Homo sapiens: one gene and its partners. The gene in region 1 interacts genetically with each later gene. Each region holds a gene or a part of one and is shown on either strand. Other genes may lie near its edges. The genes, in order: MCM9, STK11 and NF2.

Region 1 (3,651 bases):
AATTAAAAGAACTAGAGAAGCAAGAACAAACAAATTCAAAAGCTAGCAGAAGACAAGAAATAACTAAGATCAGAGCAGAACTGAAGGAGATAGAGACACGAAAAACCCTTCAAAAAATCAGTGAATCCAGGAGCTGGTTTTTTGAAAAGATTAACAAAATAGATAGACCGCTAGCCATACTAATGAAGCAGAAAAGAGAGAAGAATCAAATAGACACAATAAAAAAATGATAAAGGGGATACCACAACTGATCCCACAGAAATACAAACTACCATTAGAGAATACTGTAAACAACTCTATGCAGATAAGTTAGAAAATCTAGAAGAAATGGATAAATTTCTGGACACATAAACCCTCCCAAGACTAAACCAGGAAGAAGTTGAATCCCTGAATATACCAATAACAAGTTCTGAAAGTGAGGCAGTAATTAATAGCCTACCAACCAAAAAAAGTCCAGGACCAGACAGATTCACAGCCAAATTCTACCAGAGGTACAAAGAGGAGCTGGTATCATTCCTTCTGAAACTATTTCAAACAATAGAAAAAGAGGGACTCCCCACTAAGTCATTTTATGAGGCCAGCATCATCCTGATTCCAAAACCTGGCAGAGAGACAATAAAAAAAGAAAATTTCGGGCCAGTATCCCTGATGAACATTGATGTGAAAATCCTCAATAAAATACTGGCAAACTGAATACAGCAGCACATCAAAAAGCTTATCCACCATGTTCAAGTCAGCTTCATCTCTGGGATGCAAGGCTGGTTCAACATACACAAATCAACAAACGTAATCCATCACATAAACAGAACCAGTGACAAAAACCACATGATTATCTCAATAGATGCAGAAAATGCCTTCAATAAAATTCAACACCCCTTCGTGCTAAAAACTCTCAATAAGCTAGGTGTTGATGGAAAGTATCTCAAAATAATAAGAGCTATTTATGACAAACCTACAGCCAATATCATACTGAATGGGCAAAAGCTGGAAGCATTCCCCTTGAAAACTGGCACAAGACAAGGATGCCCTCTCTCACCACTCCTAGTCAACATAGTATTGGAAGTTCTGGCCAGAGCAATCAGGCAAGAGAAAGAAATAAAGGATATTCATATAGGAAGAGAGGAAGCTAAATTGTCTCTGTTTGCAGATGACATGATTGTATATTTAGAAAACCCCATCATCTCACCCCAAAACTCCTTAAGCTGATAAACAACTTCAGCAAAGTTTCAAGATACAAAATCAATGTGCACCAATCACAAGCATTTCTATACACCAATAATAGAGAGCTGAATCATCAGTGAACTTCCATTCACAATTGCTACAAAGAAAATAAAATACCTAGGAATACAACTTACATGGGATGTGAAAGACCTCTTCAAGGAGAACTACAAACCACTGCTCAAGGAAATAAGAGAGGATACAAACAAATGGAAAAACATTCCATGCTCATGGATAGGGTGAATCAATATTGTGAAAATAGCTGTACTGCTTAAAGTAATTTATAGATTCAATGCTATTCCCATCAAGCTACCGTTGACTTTCTTCACAGAACTAGGAAAAACTACTTTAAATTTCATATGGAACCAAAATAGAGCCGGTATAGCCATGATAATCCTAAGCAAAAAGAACAAAGCTGGAGGCATCACGCTACCTGACTTCAAACTATACTGCAGGCTACAGTAACCAAAACAGCATGGTGCTGGTACCAAAACAGATATATAGACCAATGAAACAGAACAGAGGCCTCAGAAATAACACCACACATCTACAACCATCTGATCTTCCACAGACCTCACAAAAATAAGCAAGGGGGAAAGGATTCCCTATTTAATAAATGATGCTGGGAAAACTGGTTAGCCATATGCAGAAAACAGAAACTGGACCTGCTCCTTACACCTTATACAAAAATTAACTCAAGTTGGATTAAAGACTTGAATTTTAAACCTAAAACCATAAAAACCCTAGAAGAAAACCTAGGCAGTACCATTCAGGACATAGGCATGGGCAAAGACTTCATGACTAAAATACCAAAAGCAATTGCAACAAAAGCTAAAATTGACAAATGGGATCTAATCAAACCAAAGAGCTTCAGCTCAGCCAAATAAACTATCATCAGAGTGAACAGGCAACTTATAGAATGTGAGAAAATTTTTACAATCTATCCATCTGACAAAGGGCTAATATCCAGAATCTACAAGGAACTTAAAAAAATATACAAGAAAAAAAGCCATCAAAACTGGGTGAAGGATATGAACAGACACTTCCCAAAAGAAGACATTCATGCAGCCAACAAACATGAAAAAAAGCTCATCATCACTGGTCATTAAAGAAATGCAAATCAAAACCACAATGAGATACCATCTTACACCAGTTAGAATGGTGATCATTAGAAAGTCAGGAAACAACAGATGGTGGCTAGGCTGTGGAGAAATAGGAATGCTTCTACGTTGTTGGTGGGAGTGTAAATTAGTTCAGCCATTGTGGAAGACAGTGTGGCGATTCCTCAAGGATCTAGAACCAGAAATACCATTTGAACCAGCAATCCCATTACTGAGTATACACCCAAAGGATTATAAATCATTCTACTGTAAAGACACATGCACACGTATGTTTATTGCAGCTCTATTTACAATAGCAAAGACTGGGAACCATCCCAAGTGCCCATCAATGATACACTGGATAAAGAAAATGTGGCACATATACACCATGGAGTACTATGCAGACATAAAAAAGGATGAGTTCATATCCTTTGCAGGGACATGGATGAAGCTGGAAACCATCATTCTCAGCAAACTAACACAGGAACAGAAAACCAAACACCACATGTTCTCACTCATAAGTGGGAATTGAACAATGAGAACACATGGACACAGGGAGGAGAATGTCACACACTGGGGCCTTTTGGGGGGTGGGGTACAAGGGGAGGGAGAGCATTAGGACAAATACCTAATGCGTGTGGGGCTTAAAACCTAAATGATGGGTTGATAGGTGCAGCAAACCACCATGGCACATGTATACCTATGTAACAAACCTGCATGTTCTGCAAATGTATCCCAGAACTTAAAGTAAAAAAAAACAAGAAAGTTGTCCTTCTGGCAATATTTCAGTTTCTAATATGCCCAAGATATTTAAAATGATTTAAAATCATTTAAAATGATTATCACTGAACAGATCTTTCATTCGTAGAAAGTAAATAGATTTTAATTCTGTATCAAATTGATAAAAGAGTAGCTGCCCAGTAAATATGTTTAAACATGCCTGGGCTTTGCAGGAAAGATTGTCACAGTTGCCTGGGGAGGTCTGCCATGAATGGGAGTACAGGAGGCGGCAGTGTGAGCACCAGTACAGAAGTATCACAGACTCTTGACTCCTGAGGAAGGTGACTGCTCAGATGCACTCAGTACCTCAACTGGGTAAAGAGATGTGAGACCTCATAATCCCCAGTCTTTCACTTTGGTTCCTTGATCTGCAAACTGACTACTAAGCAAGTTAGCCAACAACCTACTTGGTCAGCAATCAGCTACTGTGTGGGTAGCAACAGGTCTGTCTTGTATTTGAACATTTAACATGAGAGATAAAGCTGAGGATTTTACACTGATCTTCAAACAATCTTAAATGAATGAATTGGACTTTTGGAGAGATCTAAAAATG
Region 2 (3,651 bases), on another chromosome or scaffold:
CCGTATATCCCACAAACGCCACCGTATTGCTCAAACTGGACTCAATTTTCTTAACACCTTTTTTTTTTTTTTTTTTTTTTTTTTTGGAGACAGGGTCTCACTGTATCGCCGAGGCTGGAGTGCAGTGGCGCAATCATAGCTCTGGGCTCAGGTGACCCTCCTGCCCCCAAGGTAGCTGGGACTGCAGATGTGCACCACCACACCCGACTAGTTTTTTGTAGAGATGGGGTTTCGCCATGTTGTCCAGGCTGGTCTCAAACTCCTAGACTCAAGCTATCCGCCTGCCTGGGCCTCCCAGAGTGCTGGGATTACAGGTATGAGCCACTGCTTCGCCACGTTCACCTTTATTTACTTATTTATTTATTTTTGAGACGGAGTCTCGCTCTGTCCCCCAGGCTGGAGTGCTGTGGCACGATCTTGGCTCACTGCAAGCTCCGCTTCAGCCTCCCAAGTAAGCTGGAACTACAGGTGCCTGCCACCAAGCCTGGCTAATTTTGTTTTTGTATTTTTAGTAGAGACGGGGTTTCACCGTGTTAGCCAGTATGGTCTCGATCTCCTGACCTTGTGATCCGCCCGCCTCGGCCTCCCAAAGTCCTGGGATTACAGGCTTGAGTCACTGTGCCCGGCCCACCTTTTTATTTTTTATTTTATAGAGACAAGGGCTTGCTGTGTTGCCCAGGCTGGTCTTGAACCCCTGACCTTAAGTAATCCTCTCTGGCCTCCCAAAGTGCTGGGATTACAGGTGTAAGCCATAGTACTGGGCCTAAAGTTCACCTTTTTTTTTTTTTTTTTTTTTTTTGAGATGGAGTCTCGCTCTGTCACCCAGGCTGGAGTGCAGTGGCGTGATCTTGGCTCACTGCAAGCTCTGCCTCCCGGGTTCACACCATTCTCCTGCCTCAGCCTCCCGAATAGCTGGGACTACAGGCGCCTGCCACCATGCCCGGCTAATTTTTTTGTATTTTTAGTAGAGATGGGGTTTCACTGTGTTAGCCAGGATGGTCTCGATCTCCTGACCTCGTGATCTGCCTGCCTCGGCCTCCCAAAGTGCTGGGGTTACAGGTGTGAGCCACCGCACCCGGCAAAGTTCACCTTTTTAAAGTGTGTAATTCAGTGGCATATAGTACATTGACAGAGTTGCACAACTATCACCTCTATCAGCTTCCAGAACATTCTTGTTACCCCAGAAGGAAACCCCGTCTCTGTCAGCCATCACTCCCCATTCCCTCCCCAGTCCCGGCACCCACGCATTCCCTTCCTGCCTCTGGATTGGCCTGTCCTGAACATTTCACACGAGTGGTGTCACACACCGCGTGGCCTTTTGCGTCCGGCTTGTCTCACGGAGTGTGCTGTCCTCAAGGGGCATCCGCGCCGTGGCCTGGGTCCGAACCTCTCTGCTGTTCACGGCTGCGTCACTTTCCAGTGTGTGGAGGGCCACGCTGCGTTTGACTGCTCATCTGTGGCTGGACACTTGGGCTGCTCCCGCCTCTGCCTGTGAATTGTGGCTGCTTTGGTGCACGTGTGCTCAGCCGGCGTCCCTCTAGAATCCTTGAGGGCCTTGTTTCAGCCACATCAGGAGGGATTCAGGGACCAGGGCACGCGGGTCTGGAGCTGGGTGTTCCTGGGTCTCCATGTGCCTCCCAGTCCTGCTCTGAGCCGTGGGAGGCCGGGGCGAGGGCCAGGCCCATCTCTTCCCTGTATGATCTGTTTCTAGGCAGACGGAGGCTCCTAGCCCCACCTCTCTGTGAGCTTGAGTGGCGTTTATGACTCTCCTTCCTATTTCCTGTCCTGCTAATCAACAAGTCAGCTAAACAGTCCATGCTGCCTGGGCAAGCCCAGTAGGCCCCTAACGTGGCACCTCGGAGCGGCTGGCGATGCCCCAAGAGCCGGGCTTCCCCCTCCTGGAGGCTCTTCCTGTTCCTCGCCAAGCTCTTAGGTTTCGCTGGGCCTCCTCTTCTGCTCTTTTTCTGGCTGGAGACGTCAGAGGAAGCCTGGCGATCTAGAGAAGCTGATGTGCACCCATCATCCCGGAGGTGACTGCCACCAGGCGGGGGTGGCTCCACCCCCACTCCTCCCCTGGCATAAATCGGGGGACGCACGTGCCTGCGCAGAATGCCTTGGTCCCTTTTAATTAAACAGACAACCCAGTGTCCCTTGGTCTATGCTGACCTGCTCAGGAGTGCCTGGGCTCTTCCACGTTTCAGCTGCTGTGTGTCCTGCTGCTGTGAAGTGTCCCCGTTGAGGTGGAGGCAGGGCAGGGCGCCTTCGGTGAGGGCGAGTCCTCCTGTGCCCGTTTCCCCATCTGTAGAATGATGGCTCATGGAGGAGACATGGTGTCGGCAGGTGGTGGCCGGCGCAGGGAGGTTTCCAGGAGGGAGTCCTCCACCCTCATTTGCTTTTAGGGCCGTGCAGCCTCCCGAGCGGCCCCCACGAGGCTCTGAGGCTGCATGCAGGTTGAGCTCCTGGCCTCACTGCCCCTCCTCAGGGTTAGGACTGTGCTGGAGCCTGGGTGGGTGTGGGGTGGTCCCTGCACAGGCAGCAGGAGGTGGGCCAGAGCGGTGCTGGACCTGAAGGCCCGTGGCTCCCTCAGCTCCACTGAGGAGGCTGGAATAGTGTCCTGGGCCACCTTCCCTGCCGGTAGCCGGCTCCTGCTGAGGGAGGGGGTGCTTTCGCCTCCTGGTGGAGCATCAGGCTCTTGGGGCCTGTGCGTCCGAGCATCTGGCCTCTGCTGTCTGAAAACAGCACCTTCCCCGCCCCCCGGCCACCGCATCTCCTCTGAATAGAAGGCAAGTCTTGCCTCCCAGGAATGGCCTGTGACCTTCATCAGCGGGGGAGGTTAGGGGCACACAGAGCCCTGGGGAACAAGGGGATCTGGGGCTGAGCCGGGCCTCTCGGGCCCACCCCGAGCTCTCCTGAGCAGCCTGGCAGGCAGGAAGGCGCTGGGCCCCGGGGCCTTTGCCGAGCCCAGCCTCACCCTCAGCGTCCCCCTCAATGCCCTGGGTGCCTGCCAGGCTGTGGACACAGGCCCTGGCCAGTTCTATAAATAACCTTGCCGGGCCCTGCTGGGAATTGGTGCCACCACCACATAGCCCAGAGAGAACGGAAACACAGGGCTTCTCAGCGAGCAGACCAGGCCTGCGGTGACCAGTGGAAGTGGGGGACGCTTTCAGGGCTGGGCAGCCCGACAGGGCACCGGGCACAGCCAGGGGCCGGAACCAGTTGCTCACTGGCTCCGCTTCTGGGGGACTGTGTCCCTCTGTGCCCCGTCCCCATCACACCTTGCTTTCCCTTCATCCTGCTCTCCTAGCCCCTCCCCAGACTGGCGGCCCCTTGTCCAGGCCCAGCCCCAGCACAGCCTGCAGCCCTGGCAGAGCTCAGGCCTTGGCCTTCTGAGGTTGCCCTGAGGGCAGTGAGCAATGAGCCCTGGGACTGGTGCACTGGGAGGGAAAGGTGAGCCAAGGCTTCCTGCAAGAGGCAGCCCTGAGCTGGGGGTGGGGAAGGCTGGGTCGTGGGATACCCCTGACACCCCAAGTTTTTTTTTTGAGATGGAGTCTTGCTCTGTCACCCAGGCTGGAGTGCAGTGGTGAGATCTCGACTCTCTGCAACCTCCGCCTCCCAGGTTCAAGCGATTCTCCTGCCTCAGCCTCCTGAGTA
Region 3 (3,651 bases), on another chromosome or scaffold:
GGGTGACCAAGCAAGACCCTGTTTTAAAACAGAAGCAGAAACAAAATACCAAAATAAATAAATAAATAAGTAAATAAATAAGAAGGAGGAGGAGAGCTTTCTTTGACCTTTTTCTTAGCAGAGCAAAGCTTAGAAGTAAGAAATCTGAAAGTGTCAGGGAATATGCAGTCTGTGGGCCCTGGCAGAGAATAGCAGGAACACTGCAGATCGGCACTGCTTACAGCACAGCAGAGCCACAAACCTGGCATCTGGGCAACCACAGATCAGGTGGACAGACACTGACCTTGGAGCCAGATCTGAAATTTAGAATGTGAGTAAGTCAATGACTTACCTTCCAGACCTTAGTTTTCTCATCCATCAGGTGAAACTAATGATATACCTTCTCCATCTCAGATGAAGGGACGTATATTACACCTTACAGTCTTTGTATGCAGTAAACTTCTTTTGTGAATAGGAGGTCTTTTATATTGGGGTAGAGGTCTCAGGGAAAGTACAGGGCCAGGAACTGAAGGAGATTACCTGGCTTTTTTTTTTAATAAAAGGGTCTTGTTCTGTCACTGAGGCTGGAGTGCAGTGGTGCCATCATAGCTCACTGTAACCTCAAGCTCCTGGGCTTGAGCAATCCTTCTGCCTCAGCCCCTCAAGTAGCTGGGACTACAAGTGCATGCTACCACACCTAGTTAATTTTAATTGTTTCGTAGAGATCAGGTCTTGCTATGTTACCCAGGCTGATCTCAAACTCCTGGGCTCAAACATTCCTCCTACTTCAGCCCCCCAAAGTGCTAGGGTTACAGGCATGAGCTGCTATGCCTGCCTGGCCTGACTGGGCTTTTTCTTTCTTTCTTTCTTAGTTTCTTTTTTTTTAAAAGAATTGTAGATATGTAGTAAGCCACCTTATGGAAATTGTAATATGATGGAAATTAGAGAACAAATTGGCCAAGCTTTTCATTGACTTACAAGGAGAAAATTGGAGAAGAACTTTCACTGTTTTATTGCTTGTCTTTGCATTATCTTTTTGAGCTTGTGTGTGTGTGTGTGTGTGTGTGTGTGTGTGTGTATTTGGCTTAGGATTTAGAAAAAGCAGCAGTCTTAGAAACCTTGTATGACCAGAGTGTGGGATAAGATTGAAGCAAGAAGTAATTAAATGTGCTTTAATTATTTAAGGCAGAAAATAGTGCAGTGGTCACTTCTGGGTTCTGCTTTTTGAACTCAGTTAGTACCCTGGGATCACAGAGGAATGGCACTGTCTTGTGCTTGTTCCCCTTATTAAGCTCAGCATGTGGCCCAATTAATGCAGTGATCCAGAAGGCAAGGGAGGTAGTGGTGGCTTTGTGCTGTTGCCTTAAGGACACGGGGCTGTGTTTCCCGCCTGGCTCCCTCCTGTCCTAGGCCTGGCTCAGGAGTTGTCTCCACATGAGGCTGTGCAAGTCTGTGCTGTGGCTGTTGCAGCTCCCCCCTGTGAAATACAATGTGTGAACTATTGATGCATCACGTAGAATGATTCCATCTTCTCTGTGGGTCAGAGGCAAGAGTGGAGCTATTGTTGATGAAATCAGAGATGTGAGAGGGGTCCATGTGGATTAGAAATGGTGAGATGGCTTGCCTGCCCAGATGAGAAAGCTGCTTATTTCTGGGGCTCTATCTGAGGGAGGAGGTCCTGCATTGCATCCCATCGGCCATGGGGCAGAGCCACCTGGGGTTTCCCAACAAAAAGCAACATTGGCAAGGTAGCCATTTCAGTGCACCGTGTATAAGAATGCCTCCTTCTGCCAGGCGCGGCGGCTCATGCCTGTAATCCCAGCACTTTGGGAGGCCAAGGTGGGTGGATCATAAGGTCAGGAGTTCAAGACCAGCCTGGCCAATATGGTGAAACCTGATCTCTACTAAAAATACAAAAATTAGCCAGGCATGGTGGCGGGTGCCTATAGTCCCAGCTACTCGGGAGGCTGAGGCAGGAGAATTGATTGAACCTGGGAGGCGGAGGTTGCAGTGAGCCGAGATCGCGCCACTGCACTCCAGCCTGGGTGACAGAGCAAAACTCTGTCCCCTCCACCAAAAAAAAAGAATGCCTTTTTCTATCCGGGTCAAGACTCAACAGGTTTTTATTGTTTGTTCATTTGTTCATTCACCACTAGACTGTTTTTCAAGTGGCACAGCTTTCAACTCTGCAACTGGTTTAGAAGGACGGGGTGGGGGGCAATAAGAATGACCCTGGCTACCTAAAGGAAAGGGAAGGAAAAAGGTCCCAAAAGGGGAGACTGGAGATGGGGCATCTTTGGGCCCTTGTGGCACCCTAGGTCTCGAGCCCTGTGATTCAATGACTGTTTTTCTTCACCCCTCGCAGATGGAGCGGCAGCGCCTCGCTCGAGAGAAGCAGATGAGGGAGGAGGCTGAACGCACGAGGGATGAGTTGGAGAGGAGGCTGCTGCAGATGAAAGAAGAAGCAACAATGGCCAACGAAGCACTGGTGATTTCTGAGGGGCTGGGGTTCCAGGAGGCTACTTGGGGACTTCCTTGGCTTTTCTGGAGCTTGGTCTCCTGAAAACCATGAGTTAGCAGCGTTTGCTTTGAAATACTTAATTTCAGCTTTGAAAAAATCAGTGCCTTTTCTTTTCACCTGTGTTGGCAGAAGCAGATTTAGGTTGAGCTTATGTGCAGCCAAACTCCACTTTCACCACGAGGTTGCCTTTATAGCAGGGCTTCTCAGCCTGGGCACTACTGACATTTGGGGCTGACCATCCTTTGCTGTAGGAACTAGATCCCAGTAGCAGCACCTCACCCTCCATTTGTAACAATCCAAAACATCTTCAGACATTGCCACATGTCTCTTTTTTTTTTTTTTTTTTTTGAGACGGAGTCTCGCTCTGTTGCCTAGGCTGGAGTGTACAGTGGCACGATCTCAGCTTACTGCAATCTTCACCTCCCAGGTTCAAGCAATTCTCCTGCCTCAGCCTCCTGAGCAGCTGGGATTACAGGCATGCATCACCATGCCCAGCTAATTTTTGTATTTTTAGTAGAGATGGGGTTTCCCCATGTTGGTCAGGCTGGTTTCGAACTCCTGACCTCGTGATCTGCCCGCCTCAGCCTCCCAAAGTGCTGGGATTATAGGTGTTAGCCACCGTGCCCAGCTGTACTTTTATTTTTTTTTTTTGAGATGGAGTTTCACTCTTGTTGCCCAAGCTGGAGTGCAATGGCATGATCTTGGCTCACTGCAACCTCCGCCTCCTGGGTTCAAGCGATTCTCCTGCCTCAGCCTCCCAAGTAGCTGGGATTACAGGTGCGCGCCAACACATCCAGCTTTTTTTTTTTTGTATTTTTAGTAGAAATGGGTTTTCACCATGTTAGCCAGGCTGGTCTTGAACTCCTGACCTCAGGTGATCTGCCCGCCTCAGCCTCCCAAAAGGCTGGGATTATAGGCGTGAGCCACCGTGCCCCACCTGCCACATGTCTCTTGCAGGGGACAAAAAACTCCTCTGGTTCTAACCACTGATTTAAAGGGAAAGAACAGAGTTTAAGTTGTTTTTCTCCACGTGAAGCATAAGCCTGAGCTGAGGTGGGTACTCAGAGAAGGTGCTCTTGTTACTCCCCATGGGTGCAGCCCGAAGGGCCCTTCTGAAAAGTTGGGGAATGTGGCTTGTCATTTCTTGTCAG

What was found.
Region 2: changes in MCM9 (region 1) and STK11 together harm fitness more than expected from each alone (negative genetic interaction), as found in Homo sapiens cells (one large-scale study listed by BioGRID).
Region 3: changes in MCM9 (region 1) and NF2 together harm fitness more than expected from each alone (negative genetic interaction), as found in Homo sapiens cells (one large-scale study listed by BioGRID).

What each region holds. Positions count from the first base shown.
Region 1 is NC_000006.12:118,816,555-118,820,205, reverse strand, and holds part of MCM9 (DNA helicase MCM9), read left to right. Parts: intron 1-3,651. UniProt on the Homo sapiens protein: Component of the MCM8-MCM9 complex, a complex involved in the repair of double-stranded DNA breaks (DBSs) and DNA interstrand cross-links (ICLs) by homologous recombination (HR).
Region 2 is NC_000019.10:1,212,216-1,215,866, forward strand, and holds part of STK11 (serine/threonine-protein kinase STK11), read left to right. Parts: intron 1-3,651. UniProt on the Homo sapiens protein: Tumor suppressor serine/threonine-protein kinase that controls the activity of AMP-activated protein kinase (AMPK) family members, thereby playing a role in various processes such as cell metabolism, cell polarity, apoptosis and DNA damage response.
Region 3 is NC_000022.11:29,669,482-29,673,132, forward strand, and holds part of NF2 (merlin), read left to right. Parts: intron 1-2,344; coding exon 2,345-2,467; intron 2,468-3,651. UniProt on the Homo sapiens protein: Probable regulator of the Hippo/SWH (Sav/Wts/Hpo) signaling pathway, a signaling pathway that plays a pivotal role in tumor suppression by restricting proliferation and promoting apoptosis.